Regions from separate parts of the Homo sapiens genome. Here regions 2, 3, 4 and 5 are each linked to region 1. Evidence: fine-mapped expression QTL. A gene starts in region 1. Each other region holds a variant in brackets. All regions are shown on one strand. Distances are from middle to middle.

Region 1 (5,091 bases):
GAGGGTACAATAAGCCGTGATCACGCTACTGCACTCCAGCCTGGGCAACAGAGACCCTGTCTCAAAAAAAAAAAAAAAGGAAAGGAAAAAGAGAAAGAATATTGTTTGTTGTTCTTTCACAAAAGAAAATTTGCTGAAAATCAACATACACTAGTAAAATGCAAATGCTAACAGTCACTTTATGAGGGCCTATTAAAAGCCAGGCCTTTCACATATCTCATTTAATTCCTACAACTGTGCAAAGTAAGGTCATGGGTTATTACATCGGAATTAAAACTGAAAATCAGAGTAGGTCAGTAACTTGCCCAACCCCAGAGGCAGTACTGAAACTCAGGTCTACCTGCCTGCAAACCCATGTGCTTAATGCTACACACAATACCTCTTGTATAACCTCGCAACATTTAAATAATAAAAACGAACCTTACTGATATGACTTTATTAGTCCATATAAATTCCTGAGGTTCCACACACCTGACCATAACCACCAGTAAAGTCAATGGCCAATCTGCCTTTAGTTGGTCCATTTGATCCGTATAATCATGTAAATTAATGCTACTTTTCTCCTTCGTGTAATAACAGAACACTGCTGATCACCTTCAGAAAACTACATACCACAACATTTTCAGACTGATGGCTGGGATTAGGGGTCAAGTTGATAGCACAGGACTGCACAATGCTAACAGGACCACAGGGAGCTTAAACTCAATCACTCTACCAACATTTACTAAATCCATCCTTTCCAGCTCCTATTCCTACAAAGTGGGCTAAAAAGCATACTAAAATGAAAAGAAAAAAGGATGTTAACAGTCAAAACACCAGAATTCCATATTCCACATTCCACAAACACCACATTCCACAAATCTTACCACGCCAGGTGTCAATTTCCTTATTTGAGGAAGGGAAGCTGGACCAGGTCCTCCCTCCCGTTATTTCCAATTCTGGAATCCTGCAATGAATAATCTCTAGATGAGTGACAGTGTGAATTACGTAATACAGGTACTTTTCTTTTCCAAAATTCTCCAATGATAAAGAACAGTTCTAGAATAACTATATGTAAAATGAAGCATGTTCCACTAAATTATTTCAAGCTCCCTTGAAGAGATTTCAGATCCATGTAAAGATATAGCAGAAACTTAAGCGTTGAGTCAAGTCACGTGGGTGGTCCCCAAGCAACTGTGCCCCCTCATCACCCTTCAGCACATGGTGAAATGACATCCTCATCATGCCTATGCCTAAATAAGTGAAGCGGGTGAGACAGCACATAGCATGTGAGTTTAACAAAACTTCAAAATAGCACCAAAAAAAAATTGCAGAAGCAACCTGATGCTCAGAATAAAACCTTCTTAACAGAACTGGCATAGAACAGACTATCAACTGCAAAGTCAGTGTCCTACCTGCCTCTTAGGAGGTCTCTATACAACTTGCTCACAAGTTTCTTCAGTGACGGTGCGTGTCTAGCTAAAGTTAATCTAGTCCACTGACAACCTTTGCACTGCCACTATTCTGAACAGAATCTCAAAATACCAAAACCAGGCAGCTGCCAGGGAGTTGGACCCCGGAAGCCAAGGATTTCCAGATCTTCGGGCGTTCTGAACCTCTTCACTAGACCACGAAGGCCTCTCGGCCTCTCATCACTGGCTTTCAGCACCTGGTCTAACTTTCCCCGCTGGACCCTCCCCAACGCAGAAGCTAAACCCTCGGGTCCTTCCAGAGCAACCGCCGGCTCCAAAGCCCTCAACTCTGCAGCAAATTCCCCTCCGGTGCCAGCCCGGCTGGCCCAAGGCCCGGGTCCAATCCTCAGAACTGCACGGCTCGGCCCCGCCCCTCCCCCACGCCGTGCCTAACCCTAACCCCCAGCCTCACGCGTCGCACCGCTCCCCACGCCCCGCTCCCGCTCCCCACGCCCACACGGGCAGCGACCTCGCGGACCCAGCCGCCCGCTCCCGCTCCCTCCACTCCCAGGAGACACTTCAACCCTTTCGCCGCCCCTTGCCCGCCCTCACCTGAACCGCGGGCGCCGGCCCCCTAACCCGCAGCCCTTCTCCGGCCGCGGGCTCCCAGACGCACTCGCTCCCGCAAGGAGTCTGGGTGCGCGCACGCTCTGGGCCTGCGCGGCGGAAGGGGCGGGGCAGCGCGGGGCGGGGCCTGGAGGGTGCCGGGGCGGGGCCACAGCGGGCGGGTCCTGGAGCGGCTCGGGAGAGCGGAGGGTCGGCGAGGGTGCCTGCGCGCGGCTGGGCCTGGGGATGCAGGTTCCAGCCTGCTTGCGCGTCTCACCTGATTTAGGAGCTTCCAGAGGCCCCAGACAGTGCCTGTCTTTGCCTGACCGCGAATCAAAGTTCCATAGCCCGTGAGCGAAGGCACGTCTATTAGCTGACGTTTGCAGAGAGCATACCCTGCCCCAGGCCCTATGCTAAGCACTTTCTACCCACCGTCTTTGTGCTGCAGCCCTGTGAGCTATGCACTATTAGTGCCCATTTTACAGTTGAGGACATGAGTAGAACGCGACCTCAGCCTGTGCTTCCGAGTTCCTTCATTCCTCCTTCCCGTCCCCGGGCCCTCGATGTCCAGAAAGAATGTAAACACATCGAAGGATCACATTTTAAAGTTAAACTCCATCATTTTCCTCTTCTTAGATATGAAGGCCCCTTTCCTGTTATTCACTGGGTTTTGCTTAGTACGGCTTCACACTACTTATTCCAGGTACTCCCAGCAGTGGCGCAGAGACCATCCTCAGTTCTGTGTGTGGATGGGACCAGAGAAGCCGGCCGGCCGAGCTAATGTTCTTCCCTTCCTGGAAGAGAGTAGTTTCCAAACAACCCGATCTCTGTTCCTCTACTGGCTCCACATATGCTCTAAGTTCCTGTTACACTGTTGAGAGGCTCTTGAATTAGAAACTATCGAGTATAAATGGCAGTGGAATATCACTCTATAGTTGTCACCGATATTTCCCTTACCTTGAGATTGTGACAAGACCAGAAAGAGAAAAAGAGTAAAAACAATGTAAACTATAATTTTTGATAGACTTTGTTTTTTTAAAGTGGTTTAAAGTTAACAAAATTGAGCAGAAAGATATTTTCCAAATACTCCCCGCCCCACCTCCCCACATGCATCGCCTTCCCTTTATCAACATCCTCTACCAGAGTGGTACATTTCTTAGAACTGATGAACCCGGCCCGGCCTGGTGGCTCACGCCTGTAATCCCAACACTTTGGGAGGCCGAGGCGGGCGGATCCCGAGATCAGGAGATCGAGACCATCCTGGCCAACATGGTGAAACCGCGTCTCTACTAAAAATACAAAAATTCGCCGGTCGTGGTGGCGGGCACCTGTAGTCCCAGCTACTCGGGAGCTGAGGCAGGAGAATTGCTTGAACCGGGGAGGCGGAGGTTGCAGTGAGCCGAGATTGAGCCATTGCACTCCAGCCTGTCGACAGAGCGAGACAGAGCGAGACTCCATCTCAAACAAAAGAACTGATGAACCTACATTGATACATCATTACCCACCATCACAGTATAATGCAGAGTAATTTCACTGTCTTAAAAATCATCTGTGCTCTGCATATTCATCTCTCCCTCTCCTCTACCCCTGGCAACCGCTGATCTTTTTGTCTCCATAGTTTTGCCTTTTTCCAGAGTGTCATCTAGTTGGAATTACATAGTATGTAGCCGTTTCAGATTGGCTTCCTTCCCGTAGTAACAGGCATTGAAGTTTCCTCCATGTCTTTTCATGGCTTGATAGCTCCTATTTCTTTTTAGTGCTGAATAATATTCCATTGTGTCGATATATCACAGTTTTATCTATTCGCTTACTGAAAGATATCTTCATTGTTTCCAGGTTTTGGCAATTATGAATCAAGCAATTATGAATCAAACAACCCAGAAATCCAACCACCCACTCCAGGCATCTTTGCATGAACGTATCAAAAACACCTCAGTCCCAATGCCCAGGATCTTCCCCTTTGAGAGGCTGAGATGGGTGGATCACTTGAGCCCAGGAATTGGAGACCAGCCTGGGCAATATGGTGAAACCCCATCTCTACTAAAATAAATACAAAAAATTAGCCAGGTGTGGTGGCACGTGCCTGTAGTCCCAGCTACTCAGGAGACTGAGGTGGGAGAATCGCTTGAGCCAGGGAGATCGAAGCTGCCGTGAGCTGTGATTGCACCACTGCACTCCAGCCTGGGCAACAGAGTGAAACCCTGTCTCAAAAAAGTAAAAAGAAAAATAAAACAACAAAGAATAAGTAAGACTTTTCCTTTACCTTCATTATTAAAGGTAATAATGATGTTCTTTCTTTATATAGATCTGAGGTTCTGACTTTTATCATTTTTCTTCTCTCTGAAAAACTTAACATTCTCTCCAAGGCAGGTCTACTGGCAACAAATCCCCTTTGCTTTTGGGGGATAATTTCATGGGCTACAGCATTCTAGGTTAGACACTGCTTTTTTCTCTCAACACCTTAAACATTTCATTCCACTCGCTCCTTGTGTGCACAGTTTCTGAAGAAAAGTCATTTTTTGTTCATTTGTTTTTTGGTTTTGAAGGATTTTTTTGCATTTATCCTGTGTGTCCTCTGAGCTTCCCGGATCTGTGGTTTCATCTTCCATATTGATTTGGGGAAATAATCAATCATTATTGCTTCAAATATTTCTTCTGTTCCTTTCTCTGTCTTCTGCTAGTATTCCCATGAGGCATAGTTATACCTTTTTTTCATCATCTCACAGTTTTTGGATATTGTTTGTCTTTCAGTTATAGAGGTTTCTATTGAGATATCCTTAAGCTCAGCAATTCTTTCCTAAGATGTGTCTAGTCTACCATTTAGCCTCTCACAGCTACTCTTCATGTTTTTTTTTTTTTTTTTTTTTTTTTTGAGGTGGAGTCTTGCACTGTGACCCAGGCTGGAGTGCAGAGGCGCAATCTCAGCTCTCTGCAACCTCCACCACCCAGGTTCAAGCGATTCTCCCACTTCAGCCTCCTGAGTAGCTGGGATTACAGGCACCCACCACCACGCCTGGCTAATTTTTGTATTTTTAGTAGAAGCAGGGTTACACCGTGTTGGCCAGGCTGGTCTTGAACTCCTGACCTCAAATGA
Region 2 (5,106 bases), 71 kb before region 1:
TTCTTTTTTTTTTTTTTTTTGAGACAGAGTCTCACTCTGTGGCCCAGGCTGGAGTGCAGTGGCGCGATCTCAGCTCACTGCAAGCTCCGCCTCCCGAGTTCAAGCCATTCTCCTACCTCAGCCTCCTGAGTAGCTGGGATTACAGGCGCCCACCACCATGCCCAGCTAATTTTTGTATTTTTAGTAGAGACAGGGTTTCACCATGTTGGTCAGGCTGGTCTCGAACCCCTGACCTTGTGATCCACCCACCTCGGCCTCCCAAAGTGCTGGGATTACAGGCATGAGCCACCACACCCAGCCTGGGAAAATATTTTTCTAATATCTCTAGAATTTGGGACAGAATTTCTGTCCTTGAAGGTCACCCTCCAAATCCATGCAATTTTTCCCTTCTGCAGCCCCACAGTGATCATCAAAACTTGGAGCAGATTCATGTTTTTTATTTTTTTCCTGGGAAAGTTTTAGATCACGTGAAGGGAACAGATACTACGTTTGATAGGAATCGTTCCTGCTTTAGCTTCTTAAGGCCTCTCACTTGGAAAGCCTGCCCATTAGACCCTGATTTTTTGCTGTTAGCTTTTCCTTCTTAGGCGACTTCAACAAAGACTGCAAACTCCCTGACAGCACAGGCCCAGGCTTGTCACCCCTGCAACTCCATCTCCCAGAACAGTGCCTTATGCATAACAGGTACTTGATAAATGTTAGTTGACTTAAATTGACCCTATTATCTGTTTTAAACTAGCCCTTCCTACCTGTCCCCTTGCTATTTCCTCTGTTTCTGTTAAATCTTTTTATGTCACCACCTCTTGGATGATGCTACCTCATTCTCAAATCTGATGGTATGGAATAGCTATAAGAAAACAAACTTGAAAGATCTCTAACTACTAGGACTCTAAGTAGAATTTCCTGGATTGAAAACTCCCCATATCACCCTACTAAATATCTAATTATTTCTTAGGTTATCACCAACCACCCTGCATCGAGTCCCTCCTGAGCCACAGTTCAGTTTGGATTATTTTTTTCCTCATGTTCCATCCCTTGACTGTAGTGCCCTTCCCTTCCTTCCAGTGTCTTTGATCGGCCTGCACTTTGATCCAGAGCTTCTCTTTGATCTGTTCTAATGGTCATTTTTCTGCCTCCTCCCCTACATTGATCTACAATCTGGCATATTTTATACATTATACAAAGCTCATTGTTGTGCTCATTTCAGAATACCTACCTGTCAATCACACAGACATCTTTTCAAACCTAACTCAGACCCACAATGAAAGTCCCTCTCTTCTGGCCATTACTGAGATAGCTCCTGCTTCGGTCTCACTGGGGCTGTTTATTTCTCTATGGGAGGCTCTAGAACAGTAACTAAACTACAGTGCAAAACAGTGATCTATAGATTACTGTTTCTCAATCGTCAGCACTAACAATAGAGTCTAAACTCCCAGGGACCTGGAGACTTGTCTGAGAACAGCCTGGCATAAGTGCAGTCTCTCTTAATACTAAAAAATATATGCTACCCCACAATATGTCTGTATCTGTTTTAAAATGAAAATCATTTTTCCAGAATCTTTAGGTGAAATTGATACTCCAGGATTATGTTCGTCTTGTGATTTCAGATATCATCTGGGGGGAAAGGATTCACACATATGCCAGTCTGTGAGACACAGTAGTAGAAATCAAGGGACTTACCTAGCTCTAAGAATTGTATGAAAATAGTAACGGTACCAACAATTTTACCAATGGCTAGATTTAGGAGATGGTGTTCTCTTGATTCAAGATGAAGGCTAAGCTGCATCAGTTCAGTTCAGTTTAAGAACTATTATTATGTATCAAGCTTGTGCTAGTTTTTGATGGAGATGATAAGGTCTCCACTCTTGAAGATTCTGTAGACTAATGGGCAAGACATATGTCACTATATAATTTTAATATAACATGGTAAGTGATAAAAAATCATGGTATGTATGAGGTCCTTTGAAAACACAGAGGTGAGGCGCTTAGCCCAGCCTGGAGATTCACAGAGGCTTCCTGGAGGAAATAAGGCCTAAATATGGAAACCAAGTAAGAGGAATGAAAAGGACGTGCAATTTAGAGGGGACAACATGAGCAAAGGGGACACTGTCAGGTTCATGGTGGGGAGAATTGGGAGGTGACACTGGAGAGGAGCCACATTCAGGTATACCCAATGCAAGGGGACGTGGACCCCTCCACAGGCTGCTGGTTAGCCAATGGAACATTTTCCATCCTCCAGTAGTGTAGTCAGATGTACACGGAAGGTGGATGACTGGCTGCGGGGTGGAAGAAGAATTCATGGACAGCAGGACTAGAGGCCTCGC[A/G]GTGTTTAGGAAAAAGACAATGAGAGACCAAATGAGATCATTGCTGCAGGCACAGAAGGGAAAGAGAAAATACCAGGATACTTGGGGAAGCGAATTTAGCAGAATTTTGATGTCTTTGGGGGCAATGGTGAGGGGAGAAGAGAGTCCAGAATGACTCCCAAGATTCTGGCTTTCTGGGTGACTGGACATTAAGCCATTAACTAAGTTTGGGATATGAGAAGAGAAGCCGATTTGGTGGGGAAAGAAGATGGTGAGTTCAGTCTTGGAAATACTGACTTGAGGTGTCTAAGAAACATCTATACGTTTATGTGCATGTCTGTCTGTTCAGCAGGTTGTTGGATCTATGAGTCTGAGACTTAGAGACAAGGCCAGAGCTGGAGATGAAGTTGTGGGAGTCACCATTGTGCAAGTGGTGATTAATCCATGGGTGTGCGTGAGAGTTCTTGCAAGGGGAAGAGGAAACGGAAGTAAGGGCTTATGCAAGGAGGACTGTTGAGTAAAGTGGAAGGCCCAGCCTCTGCCTGCTCACTAATGTCAGTGCTGAACAAGCCCACTGGTAGTGGATGCTGAGGGAAGGAAGGAAGGAGTCTGTCTGTAAGCTTGAGCACTTTTTCCAAGAGGTGGAGAAGGCAGAGAGCCCAAGCCTTGAAGAAATGTTCCTTAGTGGCCTGGCATCTTGGAAATTTGACTCCATGACTTTGGAGAGATCTTTCCATTATTATTTTCCTTGAGCGCCCAGAAAGAGAATTCTGAACTAAATGTATTCTTTCCCATGGCTGAGTTAAGGATAGTGTTAATTACAGAAATATATGTAAGGTTTTTTTTGGTTTTTTTTTTTGGTTGTTTGAAAACTAAACCCACCTTTGAAGTCCAGAGATGTCCTTTCACTCTAATGTATGCTGAGGTGGCAACTGGTAACTGCTTCTTTGTAGGTAATAGCCATAGCCTTAGTTTCATCCTCCCTTCTCCATGACCAAAACTTGCTCCAACTTCTGCATTTCGTTTTTGTGATGTATTAATGAGGAGCAAAGACATAAAGGAATTTCAGAATTCAGAAGAGCCATGGAGAGTCCCTCTTCCAAACTCCCTATTTAACAAATAAAGAGGCCGGGCGCGGTGGCTCACGCCTGTAATCCCAGCACTTTGGGAGGCCGAGGCGGGCGGATCACGAGGTCAGGAGATCGAGACCATCCTGGCTAACACAGTGAAACCGTGTGCCTACTAAAAATACAAAAAATTAGCTGGGCGTGGTGGCGGGTGCCTGTAGTCCCAGCTAATCGGGAGGCTGAGGCAGGAGAATGGTGTGAACCCGGGAGGCAGAGCTTGCAGTGAGCCGAGATGGCGCCACTGCACTCCAGCCTGGGGGACACAGCAAGACTCTGTCACAAAAAAAAAAAAAAAAAAAAGGACCCTGAGAGGCTATGTGTCTTGCTCAAGGTCACAGAGTGAATTCCTAGCAGCATTCAGGCTAGGACCCAAGTATTCTGACTCAGTGGCCAGTGTTCTTGTTAGATAGTGAGAAAATAGAATTTAGTCCAATTTGTTTTTCTTTTTTTTTTTTTTGAGACGGAGTCTCGATCTGTCACCCAGGCTGGAATGCAGTGGCGCGATCTCGGCTCACTGCAAGCTCCACCTCCTGGGTTCACGCCATTCTCCTGCCTCAGCCTCCCGAGTAGCTGGGACTACAGGCACCCACCACCATGCCCGGCTAATTTTTTGTATTTTTAGTAGAGATGGGGTTTCACCGTGGTCTCGATTTCCTGACCTCGTGATCTGCTCGCCTCGACCTCCCAAAGTGTTGGGATTACAGGCGTGAGCCACCGTGCCCGGCCTCCAATTTATTTTTCATTCTCGAATTCAGGATCCAGCAAAACTGCCTAATTTTCATGACAGTTTGAAGAAAGGCCCAAATCAAATGCCTCCCGCTCTGTGAGGCCTGCCCAGTTTCTCAGGTGAGAGTTACCCACTTTGTGTGCTATGTGCTAGGACTGCTACCAGTACGTCCCAGGACAATCAGTCTTTCACAAGTATTGTCATGTGGTGCTTAACGACAGGGACATGTTCTGAGAAATGTGTCGTTAGGCGATTTTGTTGTGTGGACATCCTAGAGTGTACTTACACAAACCCAGATGGCATAGCCTACTACACATCTAGGCTATGCGGTGTATACTGTCAGTGCTGAGTATACGCACTGTTAGCAGATGCTGAAGGGAGTCTGTAGGTGTGAGCACTTTTTCCAAGAACTGACTTCAAACCTGTACAGCACATTACCGTACCACACACTGTAAGCAGTTATAGCACAGTGGTAAGTATGTGTGTATCTAAACACGGAAAACATGCATTAAACATATGGTATTATGGCCAGGCGCAGTGGCTCACACCTATAATCCCAGCACTTTGGGAGGCGGAGGCAGGCAGATCACGTGAGGTCGGGAGTTTGAGACCAGCCTGACCAACATGGAGAAACCCCGCCTCTACTAAAAATACAAAATTAGCCAGGCGTGGTGGTGCGTGCCTGTAATCCCAGCTACTCGAGAGGCTGAGACAGGAGAATAGCTTGAACTGGGAGGCGGAGGTTGCCATGAGCTGAGACTGCACCATTGCACTCTAGCCTGGGCAACAAGAGCGAAACTCTGCCTCAGAAATAAAATAAAATAATTAGCCGAGCGTGGTGGTGCACACCTGTGGTCCCAGCTACTCAGGAAGCTGAGGCAGGAGGATCACTTGAACCCTGGGGGCGGAGGTTGCAGTGAGTTGAGATCGTGCCACCGCCCTCCAGCCT
Region 3 (5,106 bases), 54 kb before region 1:
TTTTATTTAACATGTATTTTATTTAAATGTTTTTAATGCTAAACCACAGCAGGGGCTTAGCCTATATTTGGAAAATGGGTTATCCAAATTATTTAGAAGTCCAAATTTTTATTGTTCTACTTGAAGTTATTTATTACCTTATTCCTCCTGTAACTAAAACTAACTCATCCTCCATCTCCTCCACGTGTTCCATAATGTAGCTAATCTAATGAACTAATCCATTAATTTGTTATTGGAAGAAATATAGCCCATCCCCATCAAATCAAAGTACTCAGTCTTCTATGAATCATACATAAGTTTAAATAAATTTCTACAGACATGCTGCAGGCCCTGCTGTCCACTGGTGTGAATTTTAGACGAGGTAAAAGGGAAGGGTGGGTCTTGACAAGCTGGTATCAAGTACATAGAGGCAGACAAGGACTCTGCCTTTATTTCAGGTACTGCTTCTGAGAAAAATGAGGAAGTGCAGGGAGGAGGGAAGCCGGTTAGTCACTGTGCAGTTTTGACCTACATTTGCAAAGCTGGTTTTTCTGCACCTTTGCCTAGGAAAATGAAGTATAATAAGCTTGATATTGAAAGGGACCTGTGTTAAACATTAAACAAACATGTAAATTTTTTATGTTCAAAGGAGGGTTTAAAAAGAAAGCGGGCTGGGCACAGTGGCTCACGTCTGTAATCCCAGCATTTTGGGAGGCTGAGGCAGGTGGATCACTTGAGGTCAGGAGTTCTATATCAGCCTGACCAACATGGTGAAACCCTGTCTCTACTAAAAATACAAAAAAATTAGCTGGGCGTGGTGGTGCACGCCTGTAATCCCAGCTACTTGGGAGACTGAGGCAGGAGAATCGCTTGGAGGCAGAGGTTGCAGTGAGCCAAGATTGCACCATTGCACTCCAGCCTGGGCAACAAGAGCGAAACTCCATCTCAAAAAATAATAACGAGGAGAAGGCCTTCCAGTTATGGCAGCACAAAGAGGCAGGCAATTTCTTTCTGTAAAAAAAAAAAAAAAAAAAAAAAAGCAACAAACAACCAAAAAATATATAAAACTAGACAAAATTGTTTATCAAAACCAAGCATTTCAGGGAACTGGAAATTGACAAAATGCAGGCAAAAAATTGAGCAGCATTTATTCTTGAAAAACTACTAGATCTTCAGGCAAGTAGGAGATGGTGGCTTTTTTTGCCTGTGGCTGCTCCCATCACCCCCCAGCTCAGCCAATGACTTTTAAGTAAGATGGGGCTGGCCATGAAAACTGCCACACAAACAGATTCAATTCAGAGCAGTGGCTGGGGGGTTGAAAATCCTTGGCTTTGCTGGCTTAACATGGGAATGAACACTTGGAAATGAGCAGGACAAATCCACAGCTTCGCTAGCTTGAGGTTGCAGCCCCACTTGGGGCAAGCAGCAGGCCAACCAGGAATTTAACAGGGGGATTCTGGAAATGAGAATCAGAGAAGTATTGAAGTGAGCTCTTCACGCATCCCTGGCTGACTGAAAAAACTATGCATATATGGAGAAGACCTGAGAGAGCCCAGCAAGGGAGATAAGGGACTTGAAAACTGGCCTTCTCCAACCCCCACACAGAGGGACTGACAGGGGTTGGAAGTGTAATGGGCTTGAAGTTTTCTTTTGTTTTTTTGTTTTTTTTTTTTTTTTGGAGACAAGAGTCTCACTCTGTCGCCCGCCCAGGCTGGAGTGCAGTGACGTGATCTCAGCTCACTGCAACTTCTACCTCCTGGGTTCAAGTGATTCTCCTGCCTCAGCCTCCCAAGTTGCTGAGATTACAGGCACCCACTACCACGCCCGGCTAATTTTTTGTATTTTTAGTAGAGATGGGGTTTCGCCATGTTTGCCAGGCTAGTCTTGAACTCCTGACCTCAAGTGATCCACCCGCCTCGGCCTCCCAAAGTGCTGGGATTACAGGCATGAGCCACTGCGCCCGGCCTCAGAGAATTAAAGAAAACTGTTCAAGGAATTAAAAGAAAATATGATTTAAATGACT[C/T]GACAAATAGGGAATCTAAATAGAGAAATACAAACTGTAAAAAGAATTAAATGGAAATTCTGGAGTTGGAAGGTACAATTTCGAATTCACTAGATGGGCTCAATAGCAGATTTTGAGATAGTGGAAGAACTAGTGAACATGAAAATAGACCAATAGAAATGATCCAATTCGAAAAACAGAAAGAAAAATGAAGACAAATGAACAGACCTTCAGACACACATGGGATGATGCTCAATGTCCCCACATACGTGTAATGGAAGCCGCAGAAAGGGAGAGAGAAAAAAATAAAGAAGTAATAGCTGAAAGCTTCCCAGGTTTGATGAAAGATATTGAATTGCAGATTTTTTTTAAAACTCAACCAACACTGAATTTAAAAAACACAAAGAGAACCACACAGGAAGGACAAAGCCAGAAGCATCACACTTCCTGTGTTCAAATTATATTATAAAGCTATAGCAATCAAAACAATATAGTACTGGCATAAAAACACACATAGAGCAATGGAACAGAATTGAAAGCACAGAAATAAACCCACTCATATAAGGTTAACTAATCTTCTACAAGGTGTCAAGAACAAGAATGAGGAAAGAATAGTATCTTCAATAAATGGTGCTGGAAAAACTGGATATCCACATGCAAAAAAAAATAAGGAAATTGGATCTTTATCTTCCACCATATACAAAAATCAACTAAAGGTGGATGAAAGATTTAAATGTAAGACCTAAAATGGTAAAACTCCTAGAAGAAAATATGCAGGGAAAGATACATGACATTGGTGCTAGCGTTGATTTCTTTTTTGATATGACAACAAAAGCACAGGCAACAAAAGCAAAAGTAAAGGAGTAGGATTGCATCAAAGTAAAAAGCTTTTGCATAGCAAAGAAAACCATGAAGAGAGTAAAGATACCCATAGAATGGGAGAAAATATTTGCAAACCATATATGCAATAAGGAGCTAAATCCAAAATATACAAGAAACTCTTACTACTCAATAGTAAAAAACAAATAACCCTATTAAAAAGTAGGCAACAGGCTGAGTGCAGTGGTGCAATCTCGGCTCACTGTAACCTCCGCCTCTCAGGTTCAAGCGATTCTTCTGCCTCAGCCTCCCGAGTGGCTGGAACTACAGGCATGCGCCACCACGGCTGGCTAATTTTTTGTATTTTTGGTAGAGATGGAGTTTTGCCATGTTGGCCAGGCTGGTCTTGAATTCCTCACCTCAGGTGATCCGCCTGCCTCAGTCAGCCTCCCAAAGTGCTGGGATTACAGGCATGAGCCACTGTGCCCAGCCTATTTTAGACTTTTTGATTGCCCTATGATCTCAGTTCTCAAATGAGTTTAGGAAAAGTTATGATTTTGTAGTTTATCTGCTATCGTTGCTGTTAGGGTGTAATACTCATCCCAGCTTTCCGCATCCTGGATTCTTTGTGTTTTAATAATTGTTTACTATAATCTATTTCATATGTTCTAATGTATACAATGCCAATTGATGTTTGCTTTTATGTATTTGCAGTTTTGATTTCTTCTTTGACCCAAAGTTATTTAGTGACTTAAAAAATGTTTAAGGTGATTGAGATTTTTGTAAAAGAAAATATTTCTGTTGTTATAGCATTGTAGTCAAAGAATGTAGGCAATAAATTTTCTGCTTTGAGAAAAAAAAAAAAAAGTGGGCAAAGGACCTGCATAGACATTTCTCTAAAGAAGACATACAATGGCCAAGTGGTTTATGAAAAGATGCTCAACATCACTAATCGTCAGGGAAATGTAAATCAAAGTCACAATAAGATATTACCTTATACCTGTTGGGATGGCTGTTGCCAAAAAATCAAAACAAAAAACAAAACAAGATTGGTGTGGATGTGGATAAAGGGAACCTTTACATACTGTTGGTGGGAATGTGAATTGGTACATCTATTATGGAAAACAGTGTGGAGGTTTCTCAAAAAATTAAAAATAGAGCTACCCTATGATCCAGCAATTTCACTTCTGTGTATATATCGAAAGCAAATAAACTCCCTATCTTGAAAAGATATCTGCCCTCCCATGGTCACTGCAGCTTTGTTTGCAATAGCCAAGATATGGAAACAATCTAAGTGTTCACTGATTGATGAATGGACAAAAAAAATGTGGTGTATATATATATAGAATGGGATATTATTCAGCCTTAAAAAAGAAGGAAATCCTGCTATTTGCAACAACATGGATGAACCTTGAAGACCTTATACTAAGGGAAATAAGCCAGACACAGAAAAAATGCTGTGTGATCTCACTTATATGTGGAATCTAAAATAATCAAACTGGATATAAACAGAATAGAATACCTGTTACCAGGGTTCTGGAGCAGTGGGGGAAATGGGGAGATATTGGTCAAAGGGTACAAACTTGCAGTTATGAGTAAATTTTGGAGACCTAATGTACAGGAGGGTGACTATCATTAATAATAATATACTGGCCAGGCACAGTGGCTTATGTCTGTAATCGCAGCACCTTGGGAGTTTGAGGCGAGAGAATAGCCTGAACCCAAACATTCAAGACCAGCCTGGGCAACATAGCGAGACGTTGTCTCTACAAAAAATTTTTTAAATTGGCCAGGCGTGGTGGCCTGCACCTGTAGTCCTAACTACTTATGAGGCTGAGGCGGAGGATCACTTGAGCCCAAGAAGTTCAGGGCTGCAGTGAACTATGATTATGCCACTGCACTCCACCCTCGGTGATAGGGCGAGACCCTGTCTCTAAAAATAATAGTAATAATAATAAACCTTATATTTGACATTTGCTAAGAGAGTAGATCTTAAGGATTCTCATTACAAAGGAAAGGAAAGGGTACCAGGTAAGGTGATAACTCTGTTAATTAGCTTGATCATACCAATCATTTCACAATGTATACATATATCAAATCATCATGTTATATACCCTGAGTATATACAATTTTTATTTGTCAATTATACCGCAATAAAGCTGAAAAAATATTAAAGGACATCCTTCAGGTCGAAAGAAAATGAGGTTTTAGAGTTATTAAAATGGACAGAAAGAAATGAAGAACGCTGGAAATGGTAAATATGTGATTAAATATCAAAGAATATATATATATTCATGCTTTGAAAA
Region 4 (5,106 bases), 61 kb before region 1:
CGGGAATGACCATCAATTTGTATGGGATTTCGTGGGGGGTTGGTAAAAGCATTTTAAAATTGAATAGTTGTAATTTTTTTATAAAATTAGATAGCAATAATGGTTGCACAGCTGTTAGTAAACCAAAAAATACCAAATTAAACACCTTAAAAGGGTAAATTTTACGGTACGTAAATTATATGTCATTAGGAGTGGGTTTCTTTTTAAGTAGAAGAGTAATGGCAAGAAAGTACAGAGAACCATCTTAGGGTGACTTTCAGAGCCATCAGGAAAAACTGTCACAGAAATAAAAAGTAAAAAAACTTAGTAAGGTTGAAATCTTTGTAGCTTGTTATACACCTGAGAGTTATTTTTCGTATTGATTTAGTAATTAAATCTATGAAAGGAAATGTAAGTGTTAATTGGCCGGGCCTGGTGGCTCACACCTGTAATCCCAGCACTTTGGGAGGCCGAGGCAGGCGGATCACCTGAGGTCAGGAGTTCGAGACCAGCCTGGCCAACATGGTGAAACCCCATCTCTACTAAAAATGCAAAAATTACCCGGTTGTGGTGGCGCACCTGTAGTCCCAGCTACTTGGGAGGCTGAGGCTGGAGAGTTGCTTGAACCCGAGAGGTGGAGGCTGCAGTGAGTTGAGGTTGTGCCACTGCACCCCAGCCTGGGCGACAGAGGGAGACTCTGTCTCAAAAAATAAACAGAAAAATAAAAAAAAAAAAAGGAAATGTAAGTGTGAATTGATGAATGGATAAATAACATATGGCGTTATGGGCAGAATTTTGTCCCCCCACCTCCAAGTGTATATGTTGAAGTCCTCACCTCCAGTGCCTCAGAATATGCCTGTGTTTGGAGACAGGATCTTTAAAGAAGTAATCAAGTTAAAATGAGGTCATTAGGACAGTAATCCAATATGACTGGTATCCTTATAAGAGGAACTTTAGGGCCAGGCGCAGTGACTCACACCCGTAATCCCAGCACTTTGGGAGGCTGAGGCGGGTGGATCACCTGAGCTCAGGAGTTCCAGACCAGCCTGGCCAACATGGTGAAACCTCGTCTCTACTAAAAATACAAAAATTAGCCAGGCATGGTGGCGGACACCTGTAATCCCAGCTACTCAGGAGGCTGAGGCAGGAGAATCACTTGAACCCAGAAGGCGGAGGTTGCAGTGAGCCGAGATTGTGCCACTGCACTCCAGCCTGGGCAACAAGAGCAAACCTGTGTCTGAAATAAAAAAGGAACTTTAGACACAGACACACACCGAAAGAAGACCATTTGAAGAAATAGGGCAAAGGCGGTCATCTGCAAGCCCAGGAGAGACACCTCAGAAGAAACCCATTCTGCCAATGCATTGGTCTCAGACTTCTAGCTTCCAGAACTGTTAGAAGATAAATGGCTGTGGTTTAAGTCCCCTAGTCTGTGGGACTTTGTTACAGCAGCCCTGGCAACCAGTACAGATTTGGGTACCAAGAAATAGCGTGCTGTTGAGCAGACGTGGCTTTGGAACTAAACAGTGAGTAAGGGCTGGAAGAGTTTGGAGGTGCATGTTGGAAAAGGCCTAAATTGCCTTAAAGAGACTGTTGATAGAAATGTGGACATTAGCCGGGCGCGGTGGCTCACGCCTGTAATCCCAGCACTTTGGGAGGCTGAGGCAGGCGGATCACTTGAGGTCAGGAGTTCGAGACCAGCCTGGCCAACATGGTGAAACCCCATCTCTACTAAAAATACAAAAATTATCCAGGCGTGGTGGCGTGCGCCTGTAATCCCAGATACTCAGGAGGCTGAGGCAGAAGAATTGCCTGAACCTGAAAGGCAGAAATTGCAGTGAGCTGAGATCACGCCACTGCACTCCAGCCTCGGCAATAGAGCGAGACTCAGTCTCAAAGGAAAAAAAAAAACAGCAACAGAAATGTGGACATTGAAGGTGATTCCAGTGAGGACTGAGAAAGAAAAAACAGAGCTGTAGAGAAAGCATCTATCAGCTGGGCACCATGGCTCACGCCGGTAGTCCCAGCAGTTTGGGAGGCCAAGACATGTGGATCACCTGAGGTCAGGAGTTTGAGACCAGCCTGGCCAACATGGTGAAACCCCATCTCTACTAAAAATACAAAAATTAGCCAGGTGTGGTGGCATGCACCTGTAGTCCCGGCTACTCGGGGAGCTGAGGCAGGATAATTGCTTGAGCCTGGGAGGCAGAGGTTGCAGTGAGCCAAGATCATGCCACTGCACTCCAGCCTGGGTGACAGAGAGAGACTCCATCTCCA[CAAA/C]AAAAAAAAAAAAAAGAGAGAGAAACATCTGTCATCTTAGAGAATACATGTATCATCAGGAACAGCATGTTGGCTGAAATATGAATGTTAAACGTACTTCTGGTGAGATCTTGGACAGAAATGAGGAACATGATATTAGAAACTAGAAGAAAGATAGACCTTGTTATAAAGTGGCAAAGAAATTTGTTGAATTGGATTCTCATGTTTCATGGAAAGCAGAACTTATAAATGATGAACTTGGATATTTAGCTGAGGAGATTTCTAAGCAAAGTACTGAAGGTGGCCTGATTTCTTCTTGCTGCTCATAGTAAAATATGAGAGGAGAGAGACAAGCTAAAAAAGGAATTTTTAGAAAAAAAGGAACCAAAACTTGAAGATTTGGAAAATTCTCCATCTATCCATTCTACAAAAAGTGTGAAAGCACATTCTGGAGAAAAGACCAAGGGTGTGGCTGAACCCCTGTCTGAAAAGATGGCCAATGTGATGCATGGATACAGTCAACCAACTCAGCAAGTCGGGAACAGAGATGTGGTTTTCCCAGGAACATCTGTGGAGGGCCCTCTTGTCAAATGGCCTCACCCCCTGTGGATTGCATAGGAGGCCAAGGTTTTTGAGAATTTATACCAGCAGACATTGCCAGTTTGGACCAAAGGAGACAGAAATAGGAAGAAATGAAGGAAGATTGTCAGATTTCTGGAATTCTGCAGGACCAGCCAGTACAGCGATATGGCTGTGATCATGAGTTATCCTTAAAGGAAAGGGAAGAATGACTCTGAAGCCAGTTCAGAGATCTGCCAGGCTGCTACTGCCACCTTGGGCCCAGGCACACAGATTCAGGGGCAGGTCTGGTGCCACTTCCTTGGTTTCAGCAGGCCAGGATGCCCCAGCCCAGGACCAAGGGGTGGGGCCAGCATTTAGGGTAGAGGAATCAGGGTGATGGCCCTGGAAGGCAGGGCCACCCTGTGGACCCAGACAACAGAACACTGAGCCAAAGAGGATTATTCTCAAGCCTTGGCATTGGGCTGGGCGCAGTGGCTCACGCCTGTAATCCCAACACTTTGGGAAGCTGAGGCAGGTGGATGACCTGAGATCAGGAGTTGGAGACCAGCCTGGGCAACATGGTGAAATCCCGTCTCTACTAAAAATACAAAAAATAGCCTTGCATGGTGGCTCATGCCTGTAATCCTAGCTACTTGGGAGACTGAGGCAGGAGAATCACTTGAAGCCAGGAGGCAGAGGGTGGAGTGAGCCAAAACCGCGCCATTGCACTCCAGCCTGGGCGACAAGGGTGAAACTCCATTTCAAATTAAAAAAAAAAAAATTGAACGGAATTTGCCCTACCAGGTTCCAGGACAGGAGATCCATGACCACTTTCTTCTTTCCAATGTCCCACTTTTAAACTAGAAATGTCTATGCTCTGCCTGTCCTGTTTGGGAAGCAGATAATTTCTTGTCTGGTCGTAAAGGTTCACAGCTGGAGAATTTTGCCTCAGGATGAACCATACCTCAAATCTCACCCATACCTGGTTTAGACGATACTTACATGAGATTTGGGACTTAACAGTTGATGCTGATCTGGGTTAAGACTTTTGGCACTGTAGGGATGGGGATAAGTGTATTTTGCATATGAGAAGGATATGGATTTTCAGGGAGCAGAGGACAGGGTGTTATGGGCTGAGTGTGCTCTCTCCAAATTCAAATGTTGAAGTCTTATCTCCCAGTACCTCAGGATGTGACTCTTTTGAGATAAGATCTTTAAAGAAGTAATTAAATTAAAATGAGATCATTAGGGTGGGGCCCAAATGCAGTATGAGTAATGTCCTTATAAGAACACAGACACACACAAGAGGACGACCATGTGAGGACACTGAGAGAAGATGGCCATCTCCAAGCCAAGGAGAGAGGCCTCCAGAACTGAGAATATAAATGGTTGTTTAATCTGCCCAGTGTGTGGTACTGTGTTACCAGCCCTAGCAACCAGTGTATGTGGTCTACCCACACAATGAAATACCATTCAGCCATCAAAAGGACTCAGTGGTGATTCATGCTTACAACATGGAGAAACCTGGGAAACATCGTGCCAACAGAAAGGGCCAGTCACAAAAGGCCACATATTATATAATTCAATTTATGAATTGAAAGGCAAACCTGTAGAAATATAAAATCGACTGGTGGCTGCCTGCTGGACACCCCGCAATGTGCAGGACGGCCCCACAACCAAGACCCCTGTGGCCCAGAGTCTCAGCAATGCCGAGGCTGTGAGATCCTGCTCTCGCCCAGGCCTGCTTCCCAAAGCCCTTTAGTCCTGAAGGGAGAAGAGAACAGGCTGCCTTCTTTCTTTGTTATTGAAATCCCACTTACTCCCTCTTACAGCATGCTCTTCTCCCTTTAAGACCAGCCCGGGCTGGTCTCTACCACGTGTAGATAGGGCTGGGGAAGGAGAAGACTGGTGAGAGTGAGGGGTTTCTTTTTTTTCTTTTTTTTGTTTTGAGACGGAGTCTTGCTCTGTCTCTCAGGCTGAAGTGCAGTGGCGCCATCTCAGCTCACTGCAACCTCTGCCTCCCGGGTTCAAGAGATTCTCCTGCCTCAGCCTCCTGAGTAGCTGGGATTACAGGTGCCCACGACCATGCCCGGCTAATTTTTGTATTTTTAGTAAGAGACAGGGTTTCACTATGTTGGCCAGGCTGGTCTTGAACTCTTGACCTCAGGCAATCTGCCCGCCTCGGCCTCCCAAAGTGCTGGAATTACAGGCATGAGCCACTGCACTGGGCTTTTTTTTTTTTTTTGAGACAGGGTCTCCTCTGTTGCCCAGGCTGGAGTGCAGTGACATAATCATGGCTCACTGCAG
Region 5 (5,106 bases), 100 kb before region 1:
TCTGCTTTGGTTAGGATATGGAATTAGCTATATATAACAAAAACCTCAAGTAACTGTGACTTACATAGATATAATTTTATTTATCTTTCCACCTAACAGTCTGGAGGTGGTCATTCCAGGTGGGCACTAGTGGACACTAGTTTAGTAGTCTACGCTAGTAGGAAACCACTGTGTGAAACTATCCAAGAATCTAGCTTCCTCTTGCCCTAACATTGGTCTAAGATGACCCATTACCATCTTCCAGGCAGCAGGAGAGGGGAAAGGGAGAAGATGGGCACACTCTCTTCTTTTCAGGACACCCCTCGGAGGTTGCCTGTATCATTTCCACTCACAGCCCATTGGCCTGAACTTAGTCACATAATTCCGCCTATCTAAAAGGAAGGCTGGTGTGTTAGTCCGTTCTCAAACTGCTATAAAGAACTACCTGAGACTGGGTAATATATAAAGAAAAGAGGTTTAATCAACTCACAGTTCCACAGACTATATGGGAGGCATGACTGGGGAGGCCTCATGAAACTTACAATAATGGAAGAAGGGCAAGAGGGAAGCAGCAAAATCTTCACATGATGGCAGGAGAGAGAGAGCAAAGGGGGAAGTGCCACACACTTTTAAACAACCAGAGGCCTCATGAGAGCTCATTCACTGTCACAAGAACAGCAAGGGAGAAATTTGCCACCATGATCCAATCACCCCCCACCAGCCCCCTCCTGCAACACTAGGGATTACAATTCAGCATGAGATTTGGGTGGGAACACAAAGCAAAACCATATTTTTCCACCCCAACCCCTCCCAAATCTCATGTCCTTGTCACATTTCAAAATCAATCATGCCTTCCCATCAGTCCCCACAAGTCCAAAGTCTTATCTGAGACAAGGCAAGTCCCTTCCACCTATGAGCCTGTAAAATCAAAAATGAGTTCATTACTTCCAAGATACAATGGGGATACAGTCATTGGGTAAGTGCTCCTGCTCCAAAAGATAGAAATTGGCCAAAACAAAGGAGCTACAGGTCCCATGCAAGTCCAAAACCCAGCAGAGAAGTCATTAAATTTTAGAGCTCCAAAATAATCTCCTTTGACTCCATGTCTCACATCCAGGGCACACTAATGCAAGGGGTGGGCTCCCAAGGCCTTAGGCAGCTATGCTCATGTAACTCTGCAGGGCTCAGCTCCCACAGTTGCTCTCAAGAGTTGGCATTGAGTAGGCCTGTGGCTTTTCCAGGCACACAGTGCAAGCTGTTGGTGGATCTACCATTCTGGGATCTGGAGGACGGTGGCCATCTTCTCACAGCTCCACTAGGCAGTGCCCCAGTGGGGAAACAGTGTGGGAGCTCCAACTCCACATTTTCCTTCTGCACTGCCCTAGTAGAGGTTCTCCATGAAGACGCTGCCCCTGCAGCAGACTTCTGTCTGGATATCCAGGCATTTCTATACATCCTCTGAAATCTAGGCAGAGGCTCTCAAACCTCAACTCTTGCCTTCTGTGCACCTGGAAGCCCAATGCCACACAGAAGCCACCAAGGCTTGGGGCTTGCACCCTCTAAAGCAATGGCCCATGCTATACTTTGGACCCTTTAGCCAAGGCTGGAGCTGGAGTGGCTGGGACACAGGGCGTCATGTCCCAAGGCTGCACAGAGCAGTGGGGCCCTGGACCTGGTGCACAAAACCATTTTTCCCTCCTAGGCCTCCAGGCCTGTGATGGGAGGGGCTGCCATGAAGGTCTCTGAAGTGCCCTGGAGGCACTTTCCCCGTTGTCTTGGCTATTAACATTTGGCTTCTCTTTACTTATGCACATTTCTGCAGCAGGCTTGAATTTCTCCCAAGAAAATGGGTTTTTCTTTCCTACAACATGGTCAGGCTGAAAATTTTCCAAACTTTTATGCTCTGCTTCTCTTTTAAATATGCTCTGCTTCTCTTCTCATTTGCTTATGCAAATGAACATAGGCTTTTAGAAGCAGCCAGACCACCTCTTGAATGCTTTGATGCTTATTAATTTCTTTCAGCAGATACCCTAAATCATCTCAAGTTCACAGTTCCACAGATCCTTAGAGCAAGGGCACAATGCTGC[C/T]AGTCTCTTTCTAAAGCATAGCAACAGTGACCTTTGCTTCACTTCCCAGTAAGTCCCTCATCTCCATCAGAGACCATCTCAGCCTGGACTTCGTTGTCCATATAACTATCAGCATTGTGGTCAAAACCAATCAACAAGTCTCTAAGAAGTTCCAAACTTTCCCTCATCTTCCTGTCTTCTTCTGAGCCCTCCAAAGTGTTCCAATCTCTGTCTGTTACCCAGTTTCAAAATTGCTTCCACATTTTCAGGTATCTTTATAATAATGCCCCAATTCTCCTGGTATGAGTTTTCTGTGTTAGTCAGTTCTCACACAGCTATAAAGAACTACCTCAGACTAGGTAATTTATAAAGAAAAGAGTTTTAATAGACTCACAGTTCCACAGGCTATACAGGAGGCATGGTTCGGGAGGCCTCAGGAAGCTTACAATCATGGCAGAAGGGTGGAGGATAAATGAGCATGTCTTCGCATTGCGGCAGGAGAGAGAGAGCAAAGGGAGAAGTGCTGCACACTTTTAAACAACCAGATTTCGTGGGAACTCACTCATGATCATGGGAACAGCAGTGGGAAATCTGCCTCATGAGCCAATCACCTCCCACCAGGTCCCTCCCCCAAGACTGAGGATTACAGTTCAACATGAGATTTGGCTGGGGACACAGAGCCAAACCATATTAGCTGGAAAAAATAATAATACTTATTCTGGATGGCTAGCACCAGGATGGCCAAGGAGAGATTAGATAATGAGAAACTCTATGATAAGATCTTCCAAAATAATAGTCAATTATACTAGCAACACATAAACCACTTCCCATTGAATTAAAATGCCATCCTTGCCTTTGCTAAGTTCCACATATAATTACATTCATTTAAGAACACTAATTTTTCTTGCAATATTGGTCACTGCAAGGAAAATCTGTGTGTTTTTGCTTTGTAAGATTTGTGTGTTTTTGCTTTGCAAGCCCAGCACTAGGTTTTGGGAAATGACTGTATTGTGAAAGGAAATCAGAATTCTTTCTGAGCCTCTTTCATTGTCCCTAATATAATGACTTCCAGAAAATTGTGTATCTGGAATCAAAGAGATTTAACAGCAAGACTCCAGGTTTTCAAAATATAATCGCTTTTTAAATGCTCATGTTTTAAAATGTTCAGTTCTTTGGATTAAATGTTCAGTTCTTTGGATGAAAGATGCTATATTCCCTCGGTGTAAATGAATAAAAAGATTATAAAAAGAAACCCACTAATCTGTCCCACTATTATACTAAAACAACTTGGTAATAATTAACTGGTATTATTGTATTATTCTATAATTGATTATTAGTAATTTACCTTTTAACTACTTGATTGAAGATTAACTTGACCTGTAAAACGAACCTAAACAGTCAGACTTACTTTTTCAAAACTGGTTTGTCACCCAGGTGCAGTGGCTCACACCTATAATGCCAGCACTTAGGGAGGCCAAGGCAGAAGGATCAATTCAGTTCAGGAGTTTGAGACCATCCTGGGCAACATAGGGAGACCTCATCTCTATTTAAAAAAAAAAATTAAAATCAGGGAAAATGGAAGCTAGGAGACAGAGCTAATGTGCAGCTCCCACATGGATGGACAGAACAGCATGTGGAGACTCACACCATGATCTTTTGCTCTAAGAACCATGGCAGGAACATACCAGGAAAAGCGAAAAAATTCACAGAGCCTTTGAAAGAAGCAGCACGCCAATGCAAATTTCATGAAACAGGCAAAAAAACTGTGAGTTCCCAAAGTGTGAGAAAGGGAAAACTTACCTCTGAATACACATCCCCACTGGGGAATCCGAAAATCCAGATCACAGGAGAAGAATTTAACCTTACCTAGAGATTAAATGGATTTAGGGATTCACACAAAGTAGAAAAGTAGAAGTAGCATTGGGAAGTGCCTTGGATGTACTCCAAGTCTCCAGCTCAACCCCAGGGAAGCCATCCCTGAGTATATCTTACAGAGGCCCTCAAGGAAGGCAGCCAGTGGAATTGGGGAAGGGCCACAGGGTGAAGAAACCTCCCAAGTGAAATTGGTAGTGGTTTCAACTGGGCACAAATTTTCTTGAGTGGAGTCCAGGTGATGAGTGGGAGGTGTTGTGGATACAAGGTGCTGCCAATGAAGTAGGCAGATGGAGAGAGGCGAGGTCTGAAAGCCGTGCTTGCTTTCTCAGTGGGGTAAGCTCACAGCCTGGGGCAAGGTCTGAATGGTCCACTGCAGAAGAGAGGCTGGCCTGACCAATGGTGTGGGAGCTGGGTCAGGCCTCTTGCTACCAGCTATCTCCTACTACCCTGGCAAACTATATGATACAGTGGAGGTAGCCAAAATCCTCTTGGGAACATAACCCCATTGGCCTGAGAACTATCCTCCATCACTCACAGTGGCTGCAGCAAGCCCCACCCAAGGAGAATCTGAGCCTAGACCCTCTTAACTCTGCCCCAACCTGATGGTATTTTCCTACTTGCCCTGGTAGTTGAACACAAAACTCAGAAACTCTTGGGAGCTTTATGGCCCTGCCAATCACCTGAGTATCCAAAATACTTACCCTGACCATCTTAGGGCAAGCTTAGAGCCCCCTACGACTACTGCAGCTGGTGCTCTCTTGAAAGCACCATCTCCTGGCTAGAGGCCAACCAACTCAGGCCACCACAGTAACTCATGACAGAATAACCCTGATCCCAGGAAGGAAAAGACAACACCTAATTCCACTTCCTGAAACATCCTGGCTAACCAAAGGTCCTGTGTGTGTTCATGTGACAACTTTACCACTAGTGTAACCAGCATTACAGAAAGCCAGCACACTAAACATATCTACAACCAAGGACTTTCATAGAGTCTACCTCACTCCCCTGCCACCTCCACCAGAGAAGGTGCTGCGATCCAAGGATGGGAGACCTGAAGAAAGACCACATCACAGAACTCTGCAGACATTCCCCAGCACCAGCACATAGCCTGGTAGCTCCACTGGGTGGCTAGGCCTAGAAGAGCAGTAAGAATCACTATAGTCCAGCTCTTAGGAAGCCCCAGTCC

Evidence for each region.
Region 2: its variant is fine-mapped to the expression of NFRKB in whole blood (INTERVAL, PIP above 0.99).
Region 3: its variant is fine-mapped to the expression of NFRKB in whole blood (INTERVAL, PIP 0.95).
Region 4: its variant is fine-mapped to the expression of NFRKB in whole blood (INTERVAL, PIP above 0.99).
Region 5: its variant is fine-mapped to the expression of NFRKB in whole blood (TOPMed, PIP above 0.99).

The regions. Positions count from the first base shown.
Region 1 is chr11:129,893,493-129,898,583 of GRCh38, forward strand. NFRKB (nuclear factor related to kappaB binding protein) reads right to left here and starts at 2,086. Exons shown (of 27, transcript NM_001143835.2): 1 at 2,004-2,086; 2 at 867-946. RefSeq lists a silencer at 1,803-2,242.
Region 2 is chr11:129,822,839-129,827,944 of GRCh38, forward strand. All of the region lies in intron 1 of TMEM45B (transmembrane protein 45B), which reads left to right. Among named protein-coding and RNA genes, the nearest start is that of TMEM45B, 9.5 kb to the left of the region's middle. The variant A/G (reference allele first, on the strand shown) is at 2,325.
Region 3 is chr11:129,839,953-129,845,058 of GRCh38, forward strand. The region is part of intron 1 of TMEM45B (transmembrane protein 45B); the gene reads left to right. Among named protein-coding and RNA genes, the nearest start is that of TMEM45B, 27 kb to the left of the region's middle. The variant C/T (reference allele first, on the strand shown) is at 2,003.
Region 4 is chr11:129,832,557-129,837,662 of GRCh38, forward strand. The region is part of intron 1 of TMEM45B (transmembrane protein 45B); the gene reads left to right. Among named protein-coding and RNA genes, the nearest start is that of TMEM45B, 19 kb to the left of the region's middle. The variant CAAA/C (reference allele first, on the strand shown) is at 2,257.
Region 5 is chr11:129,793,622-129,798,727 of GRCh38, forward strand. The region is part of intron 1 of LOC124902793 (a long non-coding RNA gene); the gene reads right to left. Among named protein-coding and RNA genes, the nearest start is that of TMEM45B, 20 kb to the right of the region's middle. The variant C/T (reference allele first, on the strand shown) is at 2,067.